Homo sapiens: one gene and its partners. The protein of the gene in region 4 purifies or fractionates together with the protein of the main gene of each other region. This does not show direct contact. Each region holds a gene or a part of one and is shown on either strand. Other genes may lie near its edges. The genes, in order: CROCC, EPB41, CCDC102A, KRT222, HSPA12A, TACC1 and CEP164.

The links.
Region 1: the proteins of KRT222 (region 4) and CROCC purify together in Homo sapiens (affinity purification with mass spectrometry; one large-scale study listed by BioGRID and IntAct). This does not show direct contact.
Region 2: the proteins of KRT222 (region 4) and EPB41 purify together in Homo sapiens (affinity purification with mass spectrometry; one large-scale study listed by BioGRID and IntAct). This does not show direct contact.
Region 3: the proteins of KRT222 (region 4) and CCDC102A purify together in Homo sapiens (affinity purification with mass spectrometry; one large-scale study listed by BioGRID and IntAct). This does not show direct contact.
Region 5: the proteins of KRT222 (region 4) and HSPA12A purify together in Homo sapiens (affinity purification with mass spectrometry; one large-scale study listed by BioGRID and IntAct). This does not show direct contact.
Region 6: the proteins of KRT222 (region 4) and TACC1 purify together in Homo sapiens (affinity purification with mass spectrometry; one large-scale study listed by BioGRID and IntAct). This does not show direct contact.
Region 7: the proteins of KRT222 (region 4) and CEP164 purify together in Homo sapiens (affinity purification with mass spectrometry; one large-scale study listed by BioGRID and IntAct). This does not show direct contact.

The regions. Positions count from the first base shown.
Region 1 is NC_000001.11:16,966,931-16,970,197, forward strand, and holds part of CROCC (rootletin), read left to right. Parts: intron 1-1,272; coding exon 1,273-1,488; intron 1,489-2,185; coding exon 2,186-2,410; intron 2,411-2,854; coding exon 2,855-3,004; intron 3,005-3,267. UniProt on the Homo sapiens protein: Major structural component of the ciliary rootlet, a cytoskeletal-like structure in ciliated cells which originates from the basal body at the proximal end of a cilium and extends proximally toward the cell nucleus.
Region 2 is NC_000001.11:29,029,569-29,033,068, reverse strand, and holds part of EPB41 (protein 4.1), read right to left. Parts: intron 2,670-3,500; coding exon 2,582-2,669; intron 1-2,581. UniProt on the Homo sapiens protein: Protein 4.1 is a major structural element of the erythrocyte membrane skeleton. It plays a key role in regulating membrane physical properties of mechanical stability and deformability by stabilizing spectrin-actin interaction. Recruits DLG1 to membranes.
Region 3 is NC_000016.10:57,519,572-57,523,071, reverse strand, and holds part of CCDC102A (coiled-coil domain-containing protein 102A), read left to right. Parts: intron 1-1,895; coding exon 1,896-2,004; intron 2,005-3,500.
Region 4 is NC_000017.11:40,658,678-40,662,177, reverse strand, and holds part of KRT222 (keratin-like protein KRT222), read left to right. Parts: intron 1-133; coding exon 134-262; intron 263-1,970; coding exon 1,971-2,191; intron 2,192-3,500.
Region 5 is NC_000010.11:116,697,567-116,701,066, reverse strand, and holds part of HSPA12A (heat shock 70 kDa protein 12A), read left to right. Parts: coding exon 1-124; intron 125-2,327; coding exon 2,328-2,432; intron 2,433-3,500. UniProt on the Homo sapiens protein: Adapter protein for SORL1, but not SORT1. Delays SORL1 internalization and affects SORL1 subcellular localization.
Region 6 is NC_000008.11:38,790,236-38,793,735, forward strand, and holds part of TACC1 (transforming acidic coiled-coil-containing protein 1), read left to right. Parts: intron 1-3,500. UniProt on the Homo sapiens protein: Involved in transcription regulation induced by nuclear receptors, including in T3 thyroid hormone and all-trans retinoic acid pathways. Might promote the nuclear localization of the receptors.
Region 7 is NC_000011.10:117,334,354-117,337,853, forward strand, and holds part of CEP164 (centrosomal protein of 164 kDa), read left to right. Parts: intron 1-280; exon of another isoform or gene 281-451; intron 452-1,251; 5' UTR 1,252-1,327; intron 1,328-3,500. UniProt on the Homo sapiens protein: Plays a role in microtubule organization and/or maintenance for the formation of primary cilia (PC), a microtubule-based structure that protrudes from the surface of epithelial cells. Plays a critical role in G2/M checkpoint and nuclear divisions.

The DNA of each region.
Region 1 (3,267 bases), on a different chromosome or scaffold from region 4:
TGTAGTCCCAGCTACTCGGGAGGCTGAGGTGGGAAGATCACTGGAGCCCGGTAGGTCGAGGCTGCAATGAGCTGTGATCATGCCACTGCACTCTAGCAAGGCAGAGTGAGACCCTGTAAAAAAGAAAAGAAAAAAAAAAGAAGAAGAAGAAGAAAAGAAAGAGAGCTTGGGCTTTGGGCTGTCATCTGCCTGGTTTTCATTTTCCTAATCTGTAAAAGGAGGAGCAGTGATTACGTCACAGGGTGACACACACAGGCTCTTATCACAGGTGGTACTCAGGGGGCCTCTGTTTTATGTCTCTGTAGTTCTGGGGTTTTTATGTGTGTTTGGGGGACAGCTATGTGTGCCAGTGTGTATGTGCGTCTGTCGGGCAGGAAACTCAGGCCCTGGTGGTGACAGTGCAGCCAAAGCTCCCCTCTGCCCTCCCCAGCCTGTCCCTCTATTACTGCTTCCCCCCACCACCCCCGCCCCCAAGGCCTCTGGCCTGGGGCCGAGCTTAGCTGGATTGTTGTGTCTGCGGCTTCAACCCTGGCCATGGGCCCAGCCGCAGGGGCTGCAGGAGGAGGCCAGGAACAAAGCTGGGCAGGAGCCAGAGTGGGGGCCCCAGACAGGGCAGGGCTGGGGCTCTGGGCAGGGTGGCAGAGGGGCCAGGCTCAGGATAGGGGCTGGGGAGGCTCTAATAACACCCCCTGTTGATCCACCCTGTCTCTAGGATAGTACCAGGGATGGGAGGACCCCTAGTCTGCCTTCCTGTCCCATCCCCACTCCCCAGGCCTTTTTCACTGGCTGACCCTGGGCAGGGGAGGGGGAATCACCACCTGAAACCCTAGAACAGCAGGGCCCCCTCAGAACTGTCCGGCTCAGCTCAGTTTGCACGAGTCAGTGGGGCAGGAGAAGGGCCTTGGAATCTGCATTTCTACAGCCCCTCCTCAGGGCTCCTGTGAGCACCCAGGTTGTGGTACCCTGGGACCAATCCAGTGTCCCTACTGTACAGATATGAAATGGGGCCATAGGGCGCGAAGGGGCAGTCCTGGGTTCCACAGCCCATTGGCCTGGGCTAAAACTGGAAGGTGGGCTCTGGGATCTTCACGTCCACTCATCCTGGGAACGCATGGGGAGACCGAGGACCCCAGAGGGTCCCAGGCCGGCCCCAGGTCACGTAGGTCACCCTTCGAGGCTGCTCCCCACTTTCCCCCTAAGGGCCCCAGGGCGTGTGCGGGAGGGCTGCGGGGTGCACTGGACGTCTGGGCCTGAGCCCCATGCCACCTGCAGGAGAAGATCAGCAAGATGAAGGCCAATGAGACAAAGCTGGAGGGCGACAAGCGGCGCCTGAAGGAGGTTCTGGACGCCTCCGAGAGCCGCACTGTCAAGCTGGAGCTGCAGCGGCGCTCGCTTGAGGGGGAGCTGCAGCGCAGCCGCCTGGGCCTCAGTGACCGCGAGGCCCAAGCCCAGGCCCTCCAGGATCGGGTGGATTCCCTGCAGAGACAGGTGGGCCCCTCCCCAAATCACAGCCACAGTGTTCACATGCCCTGTGCCAAGAGCTTTGTAGGCACTACGCAGTCCCCCAACAACCCTGTGAGGCAAGTATTACCCACATCCCCATTTCACAGATGGACAAATGGAGGCTGAGAGGTGATGTCATTGTCTAAGATCCCATAGCTAGTAAGAGGCAGAGCCAAAATTAGAATTCAGGACTATTTGATGACAGCATCTGCATACATAGGAGTCATCTGGGACAAGTTAGAGATGTAGGTTTCACTCATTTCCCTTTTTGCCTTGACTGCTAGGAAGCTCAGCTCTAACTGGAATGTTAAATAATACGGCTAGCCTTGCCTGAACACCCAACAAGGTCAAAAATAAAAAAATTTTAGGGTCGTGGTGGTTTCCCTTTCTCTTCCACAGCAGAGAGGAGAGAGGAGTGAGGACAGGGAGGAGACCAGGGAGTCTGAGACAACTAGGTTGATGGCACTCTGGGCACTAGTAGTTAGCCAGCAATGGGATGGGGCCCAGGTGGCAGTAGGCTGAGCCAGCAGGAGTGCTTAGGAACACTGGGTCTCAATGATGGAGGCCCAGAGAGAAGTGGGAAGGGTGTGGATTGGGCATGCCAGGTGGAGGTCACAGTGGGAGCAGAGGTATAGAGGCCAGATGGGAACAGCCCCGATTGTTCTGGCTGTCCTCCTGCCAGGTGGCCGACAGCGAGGTGAAGGCAGGGACCCTGCAGCTGACCGTGGAGCGGCTGAATGGGGCCCTGGCTAAGGTGGAGGAAAGCGAGGGGGCCCTGCGGGACAAGGTGCGGGGCCTGACAGAGGCCCTGGCCCAGAGCAGTGCCAGCCTCAACAGCACCCGGGACAAGAACCTGCATCTGCAGAAGGCTCTGACCGCCTGTGAACATGACCGCCAAGTACTCCAGGTCTCGGGCCCAGGGTCTGGCTGGGGTGGGCCCAGTGAGAGAGTCAGCCAGTAAGAGCAGGCTTGGAGGGGGGCCCTGGTAGAGAGCCAGCCAATGGGGCAGTCAGTTGGAGCCAATGAGAGCAGGCTTTGAAGGGAGGGCGTGGGCCCAGTAGACCATCAGCCAAGGAGAAGAGGCTCTGGGTATGTCCCGTAAGAAGACAAGGCTACTGGTATAGACTTGGGGGGACCCAGGGGCAGGGTTTATTGGGGAGAGTTGGGGTCTGAGTGGGTCCCACCTTATGCAGGTCAGTGGATAGGCCGTGGATGGGTTTGGTGTGCACCCCACCCTCCAGGTGAGATGACTGCCTGTTTTATGCTCTGTGGACCTGTCCAGAGGTACAGAATAGAGAGGACTCCTTAGGGCTCCCAGGCCAGCCAGGCACCATCAGCCCCTGTCCCCCAGGAACGGCTGGATGCCGCCCGGCAGGCATTATCTGAGGCACGGAAGCAGAGCAGCTCCCTGGGCGAGCAGGTGCAGACGTTGCGAGGCGAGGTGGCTGACCTGGAACTGCAGCGGGTGGAGGCCGAGGGCCAGCTACAACAGCTACGGGAGGTGAGGGCCAGGGTGTGCCCCCTCTGTCCCCAAGACTGTGAGGCCCTAGGATAGGGTGGGGACGTTCCCACCCATCTCAACCTCATCCCAAACCCTGGTGCAGCCTCCAGTAAGGAAACATGGTTCATTCAGAGCATAGTCCTGTTATACAGATGGAGAAACAGACTGAGAGAGACAGGTTTGGCTTCAGGTGACAATTCTCTGATGTGGGCCTCACCGTCGCCTGCTCTGTGAGTGGGCCAGCCTCATTGTCCCCAAGCTTC
Region 2 (3,500 bases), on a different chromosome or scaffold from region 4:
TCAGTCTGGAGCAAAGTACTCAATACACTGTTGACTATTACTAGATAATCTGAAGATAACAACCAAAAACAGTTACAAAACATACAATGAAAAATAAAGCTCAGCCTAACAGTTATAATTTATGGACCTATTATGTTTAAATCAGCAGTCATGACTTCCTGGAGAGCAGGGCTTAGAGCTATGTATACTACCAAATATACACGCACAATTATTAATTCTTGTTTTTTTATGATAAAGTGTTAACAGCTCCAGAAATGATGTTAAATGTAGGAGTTGACTCTATTCCTATATAAACTCAGCATAAGACAATCTTAGGTTCTTAAAATTGATGTTAAGTATATTAAATTAAAAATATGATCCCTAAGTCAAGAAGTTACATTAAGGCACAATGAAATCATATTTATATGCCTCTTTATTAAAGACAACTTTAAAAAATTAAATATGTAATATTAATCATCTATGTCTATAATTCAAAGAAAATAAATTTCACCTAAGTTAGTCCCTACAGCTAACAGTTTGTTTAGCTAAGTAATCAAAACACAAAGTTAAATGCTTCTTGACTACTCTTTCCCCCAAAATGAGTATAGAGAAATATATTAGTGCCTACACGTGTTATAACAGAGAAGCAGGAATTACATACAGTTCCAATTCAGTGACTATGTAACTGAGAATTTCCCAGAAGATGCCCTCTTAAATTTTTAAAGCTTGTGGGTATAACTACATTTCACTTTGGAGAAACAATTTGCTTTACAATATTTGGGAAGGGAACATGCTGCCTGACTCCATCAATACCTGAATTGACACCAGCTTCCAGCAGGAATTGTGAAGCAAAATCTAACCATTTCAGTTTTAGAAACATACCTAATCTGATGTACTGATCTTCCTACAATATACTTTAGAGATTCATAGAAGTTGTAGTACCCAGCCCAAAATAATCCAGAACAACTTTTTTCTTTTTTTTTTTTTTTTTTAAGACAGAGTCTCAACTGTCACCCAGGCTGGAGTGCAGTGGTGCAATCTAGGCTCACTGCAGCCTCTACCTCCTGGGCTCAAGCAATCCTCCCACCTCAGCCTCCTGAGTAGCTGGGACCACCAAAGGCACGTGCCACCATGCCTGACTAATTTTTTGTATTTTCTATGGAGACGGGATTTCACCATGTTCCCCAGTCTGGTCTTGAATTCCTGAGCTTGAGCGATCGGCCGCCTCAGCCTCCCAAATTGTTGGGATTACAGGTGTGAGCCACCACGCCTGGCACTGGACCTCCCCAGCAACTTTAGTAGCTGAAGAAGAGAGAAGTAAGGAGACTTTCCTTAAGGATTCATTCTGTTAGGCTGTATTAGGTAGAACTAGGATTAAAGCTCAAGTTTCCAGGGCCCTACCCAAGTGGTTTTTGAATGAGCCACTGTGGTTCATTCAGTGTGCATCAGAACAACCTGGAGAACTTAAAATGGATTGCTGAGCTCCACCTCCAGAGAGTCTAACTCAGCAGGCCTGGGATGGGGCCTGAAATGTGCATTTCTAACAAGTTCCTAGGTGATGTTAAATGTTGCTGGCTCAGACACCATACTTTGAGAACCACTACTCTAGGCCAGTGGTTCTCAGATTCAGGCATGAATTAGAATCATTTGGGTGCTCATTAAACCAAGACATTCTAGAACCTCGCCTCCAAATTAATTCCATACATCTGAGAGAAGCTCAGGGATCTACATATTTAATGAACATCCTCAGTGATTCGATGTAGGTGATGCTGGCTGTGAAACAGGACTTGCTGCCCACTGCTCTATATTTTCAAATGTTACTGCATGTTAGGAAAATCAATTTCTTTTTCTCTAGGGGCTATCTTTTGATCTTAACAGTAGCTTGGATATGAAACTTTATTCTGAGGGTGGAATTGCTATGGGGCAAATTCAATTGATACAGTTGACTGATTTAACTGATACACTTAAAATGCTAACAAGAGGCCGGGCACGGTGGCTCACGCCTGTAATCCCAGCACTTTGGGAGGCCGAGGCGGGCGGATCACGAGGTCAGGAGATCGAGACCACGGTGAAACCCCGTCTCTACTAAAAATACAAAAATTAGCCAGGCGTGGTAGCTGGCGCCTGTAGTCCCAGCTACTCAGGAGGCTGAGGCAGGAGAATGGCGTGAACCTGGGAGGCGGAGCTTGCAGTGAGCCGAGATCATGCCACTGCACTCCAGCCTGGGAGACAGAGCAAGGCTCCATCTCAAAAAAACAAAACAAAACAAAAAAAAGCTAACAAGAAGTACTATTTCTCTCTCTTTTTTTTTTTTGAGACGGGGTCTTGCTCTGTCGCCAGGGCTGGAGTGCAGTGGCACAATCAGGGCTCACTGTACGCTCGATCTCCTGGACTCAAGTGATCCTCCCGCCTCAGCCTCCCCAGTAGCTGGGACTACAGGCATGAGCTGCTGTGCCCAGTCTACTATCTCTTTTGAATGTTTTAAAATACCCCAGATGTTGTTAAAAAGTATTATATGACACAGATGTGATACATACATAACAGACATGTATCATATAATATCTTCCACATGCATATTAATAAAGGGCAAAGTTATCATTACCTTTGCTTTATGAAGATCAACTCCATACATAGACAACTTTTTGGCATTCTCAAGAAACTCCAAGTCAGCCTGAGCTGGAGTCATGGACCTTTGATAGAATAAAAACATAAAATTCTTTCAGTGTTATAGTGTCATCATTTACAGTAACATTTATATATTCACTGTATTTTAAACACATGAACATATACATACCACTATATTAAGATATATTTCCTAGTCCTGAAAGTAGGTTATTATGGAACAGAACCCATCACTGCCTGTATCTAAATAATTAAAATATACCTTAGAAAAAGACAATGTGAGCAAACAAAAAGTCACCAAAAAGCTGCAAAAAAAATTTTTTTAATCCTACTAAACAATTTCCTTAAAGCTATTTCATCTATCATTAGTTCTGCCCCCTTCTCTTCACTCTTTTTCTCCGACATACATAAGCTCCTCCCGCTAATTTTTCTTGCCAAGGAGATGACCAAATTAAATCCTCAGAGGGCATGGTGTAATTTACAATATCCTCTTATAGCTGCCTTTTTCTCTCCATACCCCTGAATTGAGTTATGGAAATTAAACAAGAGGGCAGCTGATGTTACTTAACTGAGGACTCTTAATCGGGGCAGGCTTGATGAAAAGAAAATTTCTGGTAACAGATGGTGTCCTGCCCACTGATATAAACAAAATAAACTGGTTCACGGAAGCACATAGATAATGGGGCTGTTTTCTCTGTTATTAATATGTCTTCATTACCAGGCATATAATGAATTAGATTTGTTTGAAAACAGTCAGTCTCACTGTCTAAACACTCGCTGTGACAGTCTTTTCTTCTCCTCTATAAATTTCCCGTCTTTTGAAAAGTGTTCATGAGCTGTTATATAGAGCTTTCAAAGACAAAAATATCACTCCTAATGCTGCACAATTCAGACCAATC
Region 3 (3,500 bases), on a different chromosome or scaffold from region 4:
TGTCAGCCTCCCGAGTAGCTAGGACTACAGGCACACACCACCACGCCCAGCTAATTCTTCGTATTTTAGTAGAGACAGGTTTTCACCATGTTGCCCAGGCTGCTCTCGAACTCCTGAGCTCAGGGAGCCCACCTGCCTTGGCCTCCCAAAGCGCTAGGATTACAGGTGTAAGCCACTGCGCCCAGCCTGAAAGTAACTTAAAATACACGTGTTGTGATATGGGAGTGCTTGGGCATAGCTCCTCTAGAAGAAATGGTGAAGTGGTCAGAGTGGGTGTCTTTAAATGGGATGATAGTGACGATAGTTATAACAGCAAAGACATAGCATGTGCTCCGAGTCAGGTGTTGTGTTGAAGGCTTACATGTATCTGCACATTTAAGTCACCTCGCAGGACAGCTACAAAGGCGGCTCATGCAGGTGTGCAGACTTAGCAACTCAAAGACACAAGTGGTGTCACTGCGATGCGCTTTCTTGAGAGATGAACAGCCTTTGGTAAAGTTCTGAACAAAGCAAAGTGCAGCCGGGCACCGTGGCTCATGCCTATAATCCCAGTACTTTGGGAGCTCGAGGTGGCAGGATCGCTTGAGTCCAGGAGTTCCAGGTTGCAGTGAGCTGTGAACAGACAGGAACAGGGTAGTCTTTAAGAGATGAGCCTGGGGTACAGCAGGAGGGAGGTACTTGCCCAGAGATGCCCAGTGCTCTGGAGCCCTGACCACCTCCCCACAATATGAGCTGGGCACTTGCACTTGGGTAGGGAGTGCAGTTCCAGGGAGTGAGCTGTGATCTGCACTCCAGCCTGAGCAACAGAGCCAGATCCTCTCTCTAAAAACAAAGAAAAGTGCAGTCTTCCTTCAGTTTATACAGTGATTCCATTCCTAGAAAATTCAGTGTATGTTAGTATAAAAATTACTTTCTGTTTCAATGTAAATCAGAATGAGGCTGTAGGCTCAGATCATCTCTACCCCGAGCAATGTCCAGTGGGCTGTGCATGCATTCAGTAGGATGCAGGATGCATCCTGATGGGCAGGACGCCCAGGGCATTGCAGGGAGTCAGGCACCCTGGCCCCCGTCCACTAAATGACCCCTAATCATTGTGATAGCCAAAAATGTTGCCATGGGTTTTCAACATGCCTCCTACAGGGTGACGTTGTCCCCTCTGGGAACCCCATGTTGGAGGCATGGAGTGTTCCACTTTCAGAGAGAGAGGCCAGTGTGGTGTGGGGTCATGAAGGGCAGCGTGCTGGAAGGTGATGCTGAGCTCAGCCATTGGTGAGCACCTACTCTGCCAGGGCCAGGCATCATGCTTGTTACCTACAGTGCCTTATTCAAGATCAAGGCAGGGTGGGGGTTATGGGAGGATGTAGGGATCCCACACAGTGTCGATGGCAAGAGAGAACCCTCTCTTCGGGTCACTGGACAGTGTTTTCCAGTGTTTCTATCTGCAGAACCATGTGTTCAGACCAAGCCTTGCAGGGAACATAGTCTACAAAACAGACAGGAGCAGGGTGGTCTTTGACAGCTCTTCGAGAAGAACAAGGTGGGCCAAGGAGTGGAGTGGCCAGTGCTGGGGCCGCCACCTCCTGGAGCCATTTTCAGATGAGCCTGAGGTGCAGCAGGAGAGAGGTACTTGCCCGGGGATGCTCAGTGCTCTGGAACCCCGACCACCTCCCCACAATGTGAGCTGGGCACTTGCACTTGGATAGGGAATGCAGTTCCAGGAGAACTGCAAAGCCAGGGTGCTTCTAGCCACATAGGGTGCCTGGGCCTGAATACCAAGGCAAGGATTTTGGACTTGGGCTCAACAAGTGCAGAGGGCACACAGCAGGGCCACCCTTGGTGAGGACTCCAAGCAGAGGGCCTTGGTGGGCTCACCCCCATGTCTGTCCCTTCCCCAGGGATAAACTGGCGTTGAGCAGGAACATTGAGAAGCTAGAGGGGGAGCTCAGCCAGTGGAAGATCAAGTATGAGGAGCTGAGCAAGACCAAGCAGGAGATGCTCAAGCAGGTGAGTCTTGGAGACCAGAGGGTCTTCCTGGAGGCGGCAGGATCGCGCTGTTGAATTTCAGTAGTGGAGATGGAAGAGAGAATTCATTCATTAATTCATCCAACAGTTGTTCTTTTTTTTTTTTTTTTGAGACAGAGTCTTGCTCTGTCACCTAGGCTGGAGTGCAGTGGTGTGATCTTGGCTCACTGCAACCTCCACCTCCCGGGTTCAAGCGATTCTCCTGCCTCAGCTTCCCGAATAGCTGGGATTACAGGCACCCGCCACCACGCCCGGCTAATTTTTGTATTTTTAGTAGAGACAGGGTTTCACCATGTTGGCCAGACTGGTCTCGAACTCCTGGACCCAAGTGATCCTTCTGCCTCGGCCTCCAAAGTGCTGGGATTACAGGTGTAAGCCACAGTGCCTGGCTTTATTTTATTTTAATTTTATTTATTTTTATTTATTTTATTTTATTTTATTTATTTTATTTTATTTATGTTATGTTATGTTATGTTATGTTATGTTATGTTATGTTATGTTATGTTATGTTATTTTTTCTGAGTTGTTCTGAGTGCTGGGCAGGCAAGGTCCCTGCCTTCAGGAGCTCACTTTGTGGGGGCTGTGGGCATGGGAGACCGACAGTCACCAGGCAGATTCATAATTTATGAAGGAGTCAAAACAGAATGAGAGAGATGGGGTGGTAGGTCAGGGAAGGCCTAAGAAGGTGGCATTTGAGGCAAGACCTAAAGGGGCTAGAGGAAGCTGTCCTTGAAAAGATACAGGGGAGAGTGTTCCTGGCAGAAGGCACAGCGGTGCAAAGGTCCTGAGGCAGGAACAAGCCCAGCGTGTGCGGGAAACAGGGAGGGCCAGGTGGCTGGAGAGCAGGAAGTGAGAGGCGAGGCCGCAGGAGGGGGCCTTGTAGACCAGGATGAAGACGAGGAGGCTGGATGTGGCATTCATTGGGTTCCTATCTGTACTAGGTGTCACTGAAGCCTCATGGCAGCCCAGGGAGCTGGGTCCTCATGTCCCCATCTTACAGATAGGGAAACTGAGGCTCCAGAGAAGGGAATCCACCACTGCAGTGTGGGGGCTCAGAGCAGGCTGAGCTGCCACTACGGCCTCCTGTGCAGGCCTCAATGGCCACCAGAGGGCGCAGCCACCCAGGGAACGCCACACTGGATCGGTGGGTTTCTAGCAGCTGGGAGGATCACAGAACTTTAGAGCCTGAAACTGTCCTGGAGGGGACCAAGACTGGTCTTACATGAGAATCTCTGAGGAAATCTCCTAAAATACAGATTCCCAGACCTCGCCTCCACCCTCCTGAATCAGCACCTTTCAGGGCTGGGTCCAGGACCCTGTTCTTTTAGTCTTTTCAAATTATGAAGTATAATCATTCGAAGAAAAGCGAATGAAACACAAATGTACAATTTAGTAGAAAATTATAAAGGTTCTCTTTTGTATCTGGTGTCTCTCCCTCAACATTATGTGTTGAAAACTCATCCGTGTGTTACAGGGAG
Region 4 (3,500 bases):
ATTATAATCTAATGAGTTAAGGAAAAATGCTTTGATTCCTATACAATTTTTCTATAATTGCTTTTACACATCTCATTTTCAGAAGCACTCCTTGTTTTTTGTTTGTTATTGTTGCTGTTGGCTTTCTTGTTAGCTAGAAGAAGACATAAGCAAAAAAATGGACAAAGATGAAGAGGCTTTGAAGGCAGCTCAAGCAGAACTCAAGGAGGCCCGACGCCAGTGGCACCACCTGCAAGTGGAAATTGAATCTCTCCATGCTGTGGTGAGAATGATCCCAAAAGTAACCGACCCATCGAGTCCTCAGATGTGATTTGATTAAGAGAAGGAAAAGATGAATGTCTGTTTATTTACCATGAGAAACTGGAAATCAAGGCCACTGAATTCTATCCCTGATCCTAGTTTAATTACTCACCCCTCCCTCCATTGTGGCAGTGGCTGTTACCAACTCACTCAAGGTTTAGTTCAGACCTGTAAAAATGAAGAAATCCTTTCTTATTACCTTGGGATTTTCTAGTTGCTGAAGATAGGGAATAGAGCATTCGTTATTATCCAAAGTCTTAACAGTGGAGATTCTTTTATCCATGCCATTGAGACGTCGAATAAAAAATATTTAGGCTGACACTGTGGCTTACCCCTGTAATCCCAGCACTTTGGGAGGCTGAGGTGGGCTGATTGCCTGAGCTCAGGAGTTTGAGACCAGCCTGAGCAACATGATGAAACCCCATCTCTATTAAATACAAAATATTAGCCAGGCATGGTGGCACGCGCCTGTTGTCCCAGCAACTTAGGAGGCTGAGGCACAAAAATTACTTGAACCTGGGAGGCAGAGGTTGCAGTAAGCCAAGATCATGCCACTGCACTCCAGCCTGGGTGACAGAGCGAGACTCTGTCTCCAGAAAAGAAAAGGAAAAAAAAAAAGAAAGAAAAATATTTAAGCATGTTTGGAGCAAGGCACAGTTGCTCACGCCTGTAATCCTAGCACTTTGGAAGGCCAAGGCTTGAGGCCAGGAGTTTGAAGCCAGCCTGAGCAACATGGCGAAAACATCTCTCCTAAAAATACAAAAAATTAGCCAGGTATGGTGGCACACGCCTGTAATCCCAGCTACTCTGGAGGCTGAGGCACGAGAATCACTTGAACCCAGGAGGCAGAGGCTGCAGTAAGCTGAGATCATGCCACTGCACTCCAGCATGAGCGACAGAGCGAGACTGTCTCAAACAAACAAACAAACAAAAAGTATTTAAGCATGTTCCTAAATGCCTTTTATGAGCAGTCTGCTCTGGCCTTGATACTCAATGTACTATATTTTCTTTTTTTTTTTTTTTTTTACAAAGCCTACCTCTGAAGTATACTTTCAATAATTTAAAAATCAGATAATTCAGAGTGATAATAAGTTAATCACACTGCAGAGGATTTTTTTTTCAGTAAGAATTATCACAGGATGTCTTTGAAATAGAGTAAGATCTCTAGTTATGTAAATAAAATATAATTTTTTAATAATTAGGGGTCACACAAAGCTGTAAGGAAACACACCTCTTGCATAGGTATAATAAAATTATTGCAATCTTTTTAAAGAAAAAAATAGAACATAGAATGAAGACAGCCAGGCGCGGTGGCTCAAGCCTGTCATCCCAGCACTTTGGGAGGCCAAGGCGGGCGGATCACAGGGTCAGGAGTTTGAGACCAGCCTGGCCAACATGATGAAACCCCGCCTCTACTAAAGATACAAAAAATTAGCCGGGCGTGGTGGCACGCGACTGTAATCCCAGCTACTTGGGAGGCTGAGGGAGGAGAATCATTGAGCCCAGGAGGTGGAGTTTCCAGTGAACCGAGATCATGGCATTGCACTACACTCTGGGCAACAGGGTGAGACTCCATCTCAAAAAAAAAAAAAAGATGAAGATATTGCAAATCAGATTTCAGAAACACATTCTGTGTTACTGATTCACTGATGAAAATCTATATAAAACAGGAAAGGGGCCTTGAAAACTCCCTACATGCCAGCGAGCAGCATTACCAGATGCAGCTGCAAGACCTAGAGACTGTGATTGAAGGACTAGAAAAAGAGCTACAGGAAGTAAGGCGCGGCATCGAAAAGCAGCTTCAAGAGCACGAGATGCTTCTCAACACGAAGATGAGGCTGGAACAAGAAATAGCAACTTATCGCCACCTCCTAGAAAAAGAAGAAATCAGGTACCTAAATCCATTTAGTTAATGACAAGGGGCCAGAAATACAGAGCCACTTATGCCATTGTTGATGTAGTCAGAGAAATTAAATCCAAAAACCCCATCATCATCATGGTGTACTCACTGAGCCCATACAATAAGGTATGCACTGCAAAGAATATATGAAAGAACCATTTCTAGTCTTCCAAAATTAGGAACCAAACAGCCAAAGTCACCTAGAACAAAATGTAAACAATTCTAGATTACTACAAAAATGATCTTGTAGTCTTGGCCAGCTGCAGTGGCTCACTGCTGTAATCCCAGCACTTTGGGAGGCTGAGGCAGGAGGATTACTACAGCTCAGGAGCTCAATACCAGCTTGGGCAATATAGTGAGACCTCATCTGTACAAAAAATTTTAAAATTCGCTGAGCATGGTGGCACACACCTGTAGTCCCAGCTACTTGGGAGGCTAAGGTAGGAGGATTGCTTAAGGAGTTTGGGATTACAATGAGCTAATCATGAAAAAGACCTTTCCTGAGCTGGGTGCAGCGGCTCACGCCTGTAATCTCAGCACTTCGGGAGGCTGAGGTGGGCGGATCACCTGAGGTCAGGAGTTCAAGATCCGCCTGGCCAACATGGCGAAACCCTGTCTCTACTAAAAGAAAAAAACAATAATAATAATACAAAAATTAGCCGGGCATGGTGGTGCATGCCTGTAATCCCAGCTACTCGGGAGGCTGAGACAGGAGACTCGCCTGAATCCAGGAGAGGCAGGTTGCAGTGAGCCGAGACTGCGCCACTGCACTCCAGCCCAGGCGACAGAGTGAGACTCCACCTCAAAAAAAAAAAAAAAAGAGAGAGAGAGAGAGAGACCTTTCCTAACTTTCTCACTTTCCTTGCCATTCATCTCTTCTAGGATTAGTCTGTGCCTTCTAAGGATCACCCATAACAAAAGCCTGGAAAATTCACAATCACCACAATCCCCCTGATCAAGGGCTCACCCTATACCACACATCAAACCTCAAAACAGTAATCATTACTCTAACGTAATTATATTACAACCACGGAAAGCAATATTATTTTGAGTCATGATTTAAAAGACTACCAGATATCCTGATAGGAAAAGATATCAAAAGAGGAATTCTTGTTAATTCATACATCATAATCTGTAATGACTTATAAGGTCATATTGCTTTGAGCATGACATAACCTCCAATTCTCCATGAAAAAATCTTTATTCTTGCTTGCTTCCAAATTCTAAGTCCTCTATAAAACTAGATGAAAACTAGGTGAAACAACTTTAGCCTATAATAAATCTTGACATTTATTAAATC
Region 5 (3,500 bases), on a different chromosome or scaffold from region 4:
TCCCGAGAGGAAGTTCCACAGCTTCGGGTATGCCGCCAGGGACTTTTACCATGACCTGGATCCCAATGAGGCCAAGCAGTGGCTGTACCTGGAGAAGTTCAAGATGAAGCTGCACACCACTGGGGTGAGCAAGCCTCTCCCCTGGGCCCAGGTCCCCCGCAATGGAGTGCCAAGCTTCCTCCAGCCTTGGGGTGGGGAAGGGATGTCCTCCCAACCCAGGGGGCCCTCTGGTCTCTTCCAAGCAGAAATCAGTGTCCATTTACCTTGATTTTAGACACAACCTGGAGCACACAGTGCTTTTGTGGAATATGCGATGCTTTCCAATGTGCATGTGGGCAGGGAGATATTCTGAATATTTAACAACTCGTTTGTCTTGGAAATGGACCTATCAGAGTAGACCCTGGTTATACCAGGGAAGTGGGGTGCTGGGGCCCTCCTGCTGTGCCAGGAGTTCTCCCTTTAGTTTCTGGATTATTGAGAGATCAGTGTATCATGAAGGATCCACTTGGGGGCTAGGGACACATGGCGAGCTCAGGGCAGTAGCTCTTAACTAACCAGTTTGGATGTAACAACCAGTAACAACTGGTACATCCAGCTCTTTATGTGGGGAGGGGGAGCTCAGGACATCAAGTGCCCAATAATTGGAGGTCCAACTCCCTGAGTGGTGTCCTCAGCTCCCAGCAAGCCAGTGTTCCATAAGACACCTACATCAAACAGGCACCCCCTGCCACCCCGAAGCTTCGTAGAAAAGGATAGGGCATAGGACAGAACTTTTTTGAGTTAAGCATTTTATTCCATAAAGTTTCCTTAACTGTCAGTGCTTAGAAAGGCAGGATGATGATGATGTTTAAGAACACGGACTCTGGGGCCAGATGGCCTGGGTTTCAATCTGGTCACTGGTACCTTTGAGAAATGTAATCCAAGTTATGTAACCCCTCCCTGCCTTGTTTTATCTTCTCTGTCAAATGGAGACAATAGCAGTGCCTTCCTCATGGGGATTTTGTAGGGATTAAAGGAATCAAAATACGTAAAGCTCTTAGAGCCATGCCTGGTGCAGATTAAGTTCTAGTCAAGTGCAAGCTCCTATTCTAATTGCTTTCATTTGTCTGCTGAGCACTTGCAGATGACAAAGCAAACATAAGTGGGAAACTCAGCAGCCAGCACCCTGCCTTTCAAGGCTCTGTGCCCATCGGCGTGGTTGTCCTTCTATGGTGCAGACCAAGTTCTGCTAGAAATGAACTGTTCCTATTTTGCCTAATGGGATTCAATGCTGAGTATCAGGATGGCAGGTGGAAGGAAGCACAGGGATTTTTTTCAATTCAGAGCCATGGTTTCCTGGCACTTGACCACCTTTCTGAGCCTGGGAGCTGCTGCCCTAAAGCTGGGGTATCTTTGTTGGGCACCAGGAGCAGAAGGCAGCTGGCTGGGAGGAGTGAGCAAGTGCAGATAGGTCAGGATGCCACAGACGGGCTCCACATGGCTAGCTTAGTAACTCAATGCCCGTTTTCACTCCCAAGGCAAAGCATAATTACCCAGCCTGGGACAATCTGGAGGCCCCAGTGATTTTTTTCCCCCTGGCAGTAATGAGTTTGTTGGTTCAGGAGACCTGGGGGCTTCCTCCTGATTTTTGCTCTCACTCCCTGCCCATCCCTACCCCACAGGGACTTTTCTCATCATTTTTTAATGATCTCCGTCCACCAGCATCTAGGCTCTGCAGAGCATCCTCTCTCTGGGACCACACTCAGCAGCTGCTTTCACTTTTGGTGGAGAGAGGAAAGCAGTGATGCTGGGCTCCTGGCGGATTAGATAGGGCAAGCCTTAAAATAGGAGCTCTTCTATTTTGGTGACTTGGTTGGCAGCGTAATGGGGAATGAAAGCTTCGTCTGTTTAGCATCGTGGATGGCAGTGGGTTGGTACGATTAGGCCTCCATCAGGGGGGATCCTGAGCGTGACCATGTGTGTTCGAATGTGGAAATTGTACGGAAATTGCATGGGGAGTGGCACCTGCTGCCTATTCTCTCTTCCTGACTTCTACTGTTGCCCCTGAAACCTTTGCTCCCAGAGGATCCAGGAGCTAGAGGGAGAGAAGGAGGGAGCAGTGAAGGTGGGGCCTGGAGGGGACAGCCAGAGCCTCCTACACAGTAAGGGGACACTGCTGCCAGCCCCCATTTTGGGGGATGCGCCATCCTAGTCTGCCTCTTTAAGCATGGGGGAACACAGACATGGCTCACCAGGATCCTCTAGGTCCCCTTGGAGCAGTCCCCAAAGCCAGGAGACATGTTTCTCCTGTGTCATCTTCTTACTATTGTTCCTCTTCCTCCTACCAGGACCTCACCATGGATACAGACCTGACGGCAGCAAATGGCAAGAAAGTCAAAGCCCTTGAAATCTTTGCTTATGCCCTGCAGTACTTTAAGGAGCAGGCGCTGAAGGTAGGACTGATAGTTGAGGCCAGCCAGCTGTGTGCTAGGCGGTGGCACCCGTGCCAGCTCCGTGTCTCGGGCTGCTGCACCTGCTGGCCAGGGTAGGAGGCACAGCCTGGAGGGAGAGTGTGGGCTTTGGAGTCAACACAACAGGATGAACCCTCACACGCTGCTGGTGGGAAAGTAAAATGGTGCGGCCTCTTTGGAAAACAGTTTGGCAATTCCTAAAAAAGTAAAGCACAGAGTTACCGTAGGACCCAGCAGCTCCACTCCTGGGTGGAGAAATGAAAGAAATCCCTAAGAGAAATGAAAGAAGAAATGAAATCCCTAAGAGAAATGAAATCCCTAAGAGAAATGAAAGAAGATGTCCACACACACGTATACATGAATGTGCATAGCAACATTATTCATAACTGTGAAAAGTAGAAACAGTCCACATGCTGTCCACACAAACACACGTATACATGAATGTGCATAGCAACATTATTCACAACGACGAAAATCGGAAAAAATCCACATGCCCATCCACTGATGAATGGAGAAACAAAATGTGATCTATCTTACAATGAATGTTATTCAGCCAGAAACAAAATGTGATCTATCTTACAATGAATGTTATTCATCAGTAGGATGAACTACTGATACATCCTACCACATGGAGAAACCTTGAAAACGCCATGTGAAGTGAAAGAAGCCAGATACAGATAGCCACATAGCATGTGATTCCAGTTCTATGAAATGTCCAGAACAGGCACCTTCACAGAAACAGAAAGCAGAGACTTTTTCTGCGCAGGGCTGCAGGGAGTGGGAATAGGAGCGACTGCTGAAGGATATGAGTTTCTTTGAGGAGTGATGAAATTAGGTAATGGGGTTGGGCGCACAACCTTGTGAATATACGAAAACCCACTGAACTACACACTTTATAACTGGGAATTTTATGGTATGGAAATTATATCTGAGTAAAACAAAAAGAGAGGCAGGAAACATACTTAGCAGCTGTGCCATTTTGGTCAAGGTACTTAATCTTTCCAAGATCCACTTTCCTAACTGGAGAGTGGGGTGGGTAACTGTACCTCA
Region 6 (3,500 bases), on a different chromosome or scaffold from region 4:
TGCCCTTCCTGTGAGGACACCAGTCGTTGAAGTTAGGGCCCACCCTAATCCAGTTTGACCTCATCTTAACTTGGTAACATCTTCAGAGATACTATTTCTAGATAAGGTCACATTCATAGGTACTAGGAGTTGGGACTTTAACATATCATTTTGAGAGACATAATTCAGCCCACAACAGAGAGCTTTGAACAGAGGGATTGTGATTCAGCTTCTTTTGTAAAAGGCTCCCTGGGCTGCTGTGTGGAGAAGGGACTCTAGGATGGAAGTCCTTTTTATGTGGTTTCTCTGTTCCAGTATCTGGCACTGTCACCCTGAAGTGGCAGCGCCAGCTTTCAGTTATCTAGCTACCTAAACTTTGTGCTGATTGTGACTTTCTCCTCTCCCTAATAAGTATTTTTATTGCTTAGCAACTTCTTCGTAGGTTGCCTAGGGAAGTCAAGTTACTCTGGTAATAGACTGCATGATGGAGCTGGAATTATTGGTAAAATGACATCAGCAAAAAGCTGATTTGGTTTTGCTTTAAATTGATAGCTCCATGCTGTGCTTACCCAGCTGAGAATTCAGCAATACCCTCAACTTGCCCTAGGCTGCATTTTGCCATTGTTCTAGGCAGGGACAACATGGGAATAGGCAAGCTTATATACTGGAGAATTTGTGTGCGACGCATAGCTGTGTAGCACTCTCAGTGATGAAGATAACACTTATTCCTCATAGCTTCCCTTTTCTTCCGTAAAGATTGGCAGATCAGAAGGGAGATTTTGAAGCTTGAAAGAACTATTTGGTGGCCTTTCCATCAAATTTAAATAAAGCTCATAAGACACATGTTAAGGAGCTGTTTGAAAGCCTTTTTGAATTGCCATCAGCTTGGGCGGCCCTTCCTCATCGTTTTGTCAGCTGCTAGACTGATTCATCCCGCCAGATTCTTTGCCAATTGAATAGAGGCCTGGATGACCTAGGCCCCCAAAACCACAGAGACCCAATTGTTTGGTCCTTCCTGTACCAGTGACTCTCACATTTTTTTCATTCTCTCTAAAAGGAAAACTTTTAAATGTTTATGGATCATGAAGGCTCTATGGGGTAGTTCATGAATGCAGACTGTAATTGTAGGGGTAGAGGAGTGTCCAGTCCAGGAAACAACCCTGCATATTATGAAGGCTTTCAGTTTAGGGTCTTTAAACAATAGGATGATTGCTCATCAACCTGGTCGTACCCTGACTTCCAGGGTCCTTGGGTGCAACATCCGGAGCTAGTCCAGAGTACCGCCAATGGCCTTGTCACACATACACAGCAAATGTGCAAAGACAGCCAGAGCACAGGTCTGCCTGGAGAGGATTTCAGTGGGCAGAAAGCCCTTCAGAGTCATTTCATATTGAAGTTTAATTTCTGGGACTGGATAAGTTCCCTTTCTCCCAAAATTATTGATTGTTTTGTTCCTGGTAAAGATAGTCTTTCATACTTTTGTGGTTCCAAGACATGGTTGGACCGCAGTTATAAATTATATAAGACTAAATCATTCTGGAAGAATGATTTACGAGGAGTTAGTCAGGAGTTGGAGTTGAAATATGTAAACATTCTGGCTTCCTGGTACATAATGGCCCTCAAACGTGTGGGCTACATTTACCATACCCATGGCTCCTGTGCTGACTTCTGTATAGTTCTTTGAACTCAGGGAAACATCTAAGACTATTTTGAAATGACTTTTCTTATACTGGAACTGCTTTAGGAACTTGCAGTATCTAAACTCTATAATGACTCTTCCTAAGAGTTGTATGCCAGGAGTTAAGTGGCGGATAAGGTTGTAGATTTTTTTTGAAGCCACATATAGAAGCAGGTTTTAGGCTTACTGGTAAAATAAAACTCTAGCTAAAGATATTTCCTGGAAATAACCAGACTGGTAGCTGTAAAGCTTGGGCTGGTCTGTATTTGCTATCTGTCTGTTTTCTCCCACTAAAGTTGTTTAATGCTGCTGCTGTTGTGGTGGTCTTTCTCTTTGCTGGGAAATATATTGGTGAAGAAACATCCTCTAGGAATGGACTTTTGAGGAGGTACAATCTCAAGTTCATCCTCTGTTTTGTTTTGCTTTGAGACAGGATCTATGTCTAGACTGGAGTGCAGTAGTATGATCATAGCTTACTGCAGCCTCCAACTCCTGGGCTCAGATGATCCTCCTGCCTCAGCCTCCTGAGTAGCTGGGACTATAGGCACACACTACCATGCCTGGCTAATTTTTTGTTTTGTTTTGTTTTTTGAGATAGAGTCTCGCTCTGTTGCCCTGGCTGAAATGCAGTGGTGCGATCTCGGCTCACTGCAAGCTCCGCCTCCTGGGTTCACGCCATTCTTCTGCCTCAGCCTCCCAAGTAGCTAGGACCACAGGCGCCCACCACTACGCCCAGCTAATTTTTTGTATTTTTAGTAGAGACGGGGTTTCACCGTGTTAGCCAGGATGGTCTCGATCTCCTGACCTCGTGATCCGCCCGCCTTGGCCTCCCAAAGTGCTGGGATTACAGGCGTGAGCCACCACGCCTGGCCAGTTTTTTTATTTTTTGTAGAGATAGGGTCTTGCTATGTTGCCTAGGCTGATCTCGAACTCCTGGCCTAAAGGGATTCTCCTGCCTCACCCTCCCAAAGTCCTGGGATTACAGGCGTGAGCTACCATGCCTGGCTTTTGTGTTTGCATGTGTGTTTATGGAGGACTTAGGGGTTGTGGCTTTGTGTAGCTGTTTCAGTCACAAAAACTGCAGTGGGTGCCCTCTGCCCCTTGAGTTTCTCCTTCACCAACATAGCCCCCCTTCCCCAAACACACACACCTTTATCTACAGATTGTTACCTCTCTCTGAGAAAGAGAATCTTAATTAGTGTAGAAGCTCTCACATCACCCTTGGAACAACTCGTTAAACCTCTCCAGTTTGATGTGTTAATTAAATGCCTAGGTATTTCAAACACAAACTGTAGTTCTCTGGACTTTTCCCCAGAATAGAAGAAAAGAGATAAATGGGATCTGTGCACAGATATTTACTGCCTCAGGCCTGTGAGGGAATGCCAAGTTGTTTGTTGACACAATTTTGGTAGTCTCGATCAGAATCAGCAAACTGTGACTCATAGACCAAGCCCTGCCTGTCCTGTTTTTTTGCATGGCCCTGAACAGAAGAATGAGTTTTACATTTTTTGATGGTTTAATGGTGATGTGTGAAAATAATGTGAAATCCAAATTTCAGGGCCCATCAATGGTCACACGATTATGTGAATTTACTAAAAACCATTGCATCATATATTTTAAAGGGTGGACTGTATGGTTTGTGAATTATATCTCAATAAAGTAGTTCTTAAAAAAAAACAAAACAAAATTTCAGGGCCCATCAAGTTATATATATATGAAATATATATTTTGGTAGATATGGGGTCTTGCTATGTTGCCCAGGCTGATCTTGAGCTCCAGGGCTCAAGTAAGTGATCCTCCCACCTCAGCCTCCCAAAATGCTGGGATTTCAGGTTTGAACCAC
Region 7 (3,500 bases), on a different chromosome or scaffold from region 4:
TTTTCTAGAGCCTGATAAGGTAAGGAAAGAAGGTAGAATACAACCCACCCATATTTTAATTTTTTTCTGGCAGAACATTTATTTGAATTTGGATGATCCATGAATTCAGATTTCCCAGAGTTTTCCTGATCTTTAAGTAGTTAAATATATCGCCAGGTGCGGTGGCTCCTGCCTGTAATTCCAGCACTTTGGGAGGCCAGGGCCGGTGGATCACCTGAGATCAGGAGTTTGAGACCAGCCTGGCCAATGTGGTGAAATCTAATCTCTACTAAAAATCCAGAGATTAGCCAGGCATGGTGGGGGTGCCTGTAATCCCAGCTACTCGGGCAGCTGAGGCAAGAGACTAGCTTGAACCTGGGAGACAGAGGTTGCAGTGAACCAAGATCGTGCCACTGCACTCCAGCCTGGGTGACAGACTGAGACTTCGTTTCAAAAAAAAAAAAAAAAAAAGGTAAATATAGATCATTATGTATATAGCAAATTAGTCTTGTTGCCATGTGGACAGAGACTACCTGTCCTGTGCTTGCTGGAGATGGGATGCATCTAGGGGATGACATTTCTCAAATGCAGAATTTCTCAAATTCTCTGAGGTAGTTAAGATAGTACCTCGTATAGAGCACATGCTTGGGAAGTGCTTATTCACCCTAATGTTCAGGCCACCATTGGGCCCTCCCTGCCCGTGGATCCTTTCCTTTTTTCTTCTCCTCTCCCTAAGAGGATTAAAGATTCAGGTGACTCTGTAAGCCACCAGGCAGTGGGCCCCATCTGCCACCCGGGTTCCTGGTCCTTTTCTGCTCAGCTTTTTAGTCAGCAGTGGTCAGGCCTGCGTCGCCTCTGACTGTGTGTGTAGCACAGTGGGGCATCATGTCTGCAGGATGTTACGGGTTCTTCTGAGGGTTGGGAGCACATTCCCACTTCAGCTTATGTACTGTTGAAAGAAGCCCTTTTCCTTTGGTGTTTTCTTCCTGCTTGGAGGTGGCATGGTGGGAATGAGGGGCAGAAGCTGGCTCCCTTCAGGTTCAGTGCACTGACAAAGGGAACCATGTCTTGTGAGTCCTAAGGCAGGACTCCTCTGTTGCCCACCCGTTAGCTGTCATGGTACAGAGGGGGGCCATAGTAAACAATCCCTGATGGATCCTTTGTTGCTTGTCAGGGGTCTCTAGGAACCTTGGAATAGGTTCAGAGTCTCCAGATCCAGCCATTTCCTTTCTAGGCCAGATCTTGACTTTTTTTTTTTTTTTTTTCAACCAGGAGAAATAACTTTATTTGGACTGAGAGCTGGAGAATGAGAATAGGACCTGAGAGTATATTGGGCTAAGGAGGAGAGGTAAGGTTCCAAAACGGCGGTCAAAGCTCATCGACTAAACGGACTCTACTTCCCACCAAACTTGCAGTTAGTGCAACCAACAAAAGGCCTGCTGGGGAATGTATTTGCCACTAAATTCCCCAAGTATGCCAACATTACAAAAAAGATAGAGGTTTCTAATCATAATTAAATTTCCACAAACCTCCCCAATCACAAGTATTATAAGCAGAAGTAAAAAAAAATCACATTTTACAGATCTCAAACTTGTCTTCAATATTTAGTTCATCATCTTCAAAAAAATAGCTCCCCTGCTAAACTCATTAGCTATCTGATCTATCCAAGCAGCAAGAAGATGGCCAGGCCATGGCAATCCTCTTCCCATTTTCCCTATCCATTCAGGGCTCAACAGCAGGGTGAGGCTCAGGTTGGGGGTGGGGTGGGGGGAGCACAAGGGCTACTTTCCCCCAGTACAACATGGCTTCTGAAGCTTGATGGGAGAGCAGAACTGGTGAGACTTGAGGGAAGGGTCCAGGGCCTGTATTCAGTCAGAATCGCTGCTGGAAGAGGAGGAGAAAGAGGAGGAGGAATGCTTGCCATGCTTTTGGTGCTTGTGCATCTTTTTATGAGCTTTCTTCATTTTATTCTGCATCTTCTTGTCCGCTGTCACTGCTGGTCTGACCATGCCAGGAGCCAAGAGATTCACAGGAGGGATTCCAGGGGCAGGCGGTGGGTATGGAGGAAGGTGGGGACCCGAGGATTGGCATCCTGGATACCCTGGCTGTGGTACAGGATGAGGGGCCCCACCTGGGAGGAAAGCTGGATTGCCCTGGGGAACTCCTAGGGGAGGAGGACAGGGGCCTGGGGGAAAGGGTGGATTGATAGGTGGTGGGTGGGCAGGATTGGAACCTCCAGGGCACCCAGTGTTGGGGGATATGGATTTGGCCCTGGCTGTCTGGCATTGGGATTCCACATGTTTAGGTGTGTCCTCCAGCCTTTCCACGGCTGCCTGGGCTTGATGCGTTCTACCAGATCCTGATGTTTTTAATGGCTGGGCCTTTCTGCTTGAAGAGGGCCGTTTCATCCTTGCTGCTCCAGGAGGAACAGTGGCAGCTTCTGAGGAAGTGGGGACTGGAGAGGTCAGGACTTGTGGCTCCAGACTCCTGTTGGTCACATTTGGTGTGGCCAACTGCTCTGCAGGTTGGGGAGGTGCTCTGAGCAGGTCTGTGTGTGGCAGCAGTTTCCCAGGCGACTTCCTTCATCAGGCTGCAGCATGGGAGCTGCCATGGGGAGAGTTGGTGGGAACTGGGGTCCTGAGGTAGGGGTGGGAAGAGAGGAGCAATTCTAGAAGTGCACCAGCTTCTCAGTTGAAGAATTTGGCACCGCCCCATCCCTGGAGCTAGAAACCTTGGATTCAAGCTGGACTTCTGTCTTCGCTTGGGCTGCCGTAACACAATACCGTAGACTGGGGGGCTCCAACAACAGAAATCTCTTTTCTCATAGTTCTGGAAGCTAGAAGGCCCATATCAAAGTCTGTTGCTGGTTCCTGTCTTGCAGACAGCTGCCTTCTTGCTGTGTCCTCAGATGGTAGAGAGAGACCTCTAAGCCACTAGACAGTGGGCCCCATCTGCTGCCCTGGTTCCTGGTCCTTTCTTCCTCTCCTTTTAATCCTATCAGGCCATTTAACCTTAATGACCTCATTTAACTTTAATTACCTCCTAAAGAACCAGTCACATTGTGGATTAGGGCTTCAATATGTGTATTTTTCTTACTTTGAGAGGCTGAGGCGGGAGCATTGCTTGCACCCAGGAGTTCAAGACCAGCCAGGGCAACATAGTGAGACACCATCTCTGTAAAAAAAAAAAAAAGTAAAATATATACATATGTGAATTTTGAAGGGATGTAGCTCCTTTCCACTTTTCCCCCATATCCTGGTCCTATTAAGCTTAACATCACTGGGTCTGTTCTGACTGTCTCTTCTTCATTCCCCTGCTTCTGCCCTAGTTAAAGTCCTTATCATCTCGCCCCTGGGCAGCAGCCTCCTCAGGTGGTTTTCCTGACACCAGTCTCTCATTTCTCCAATCCAGCCATGCCAGTCTTGCCAGAATTCTTGTCCTAAAAAAAGGCCACCCTGTGATACTTTGTTTCACCAGAGCCCTCAGTGACTCCCCTCTGGTGTAGGACAGGGTGGAGGCTC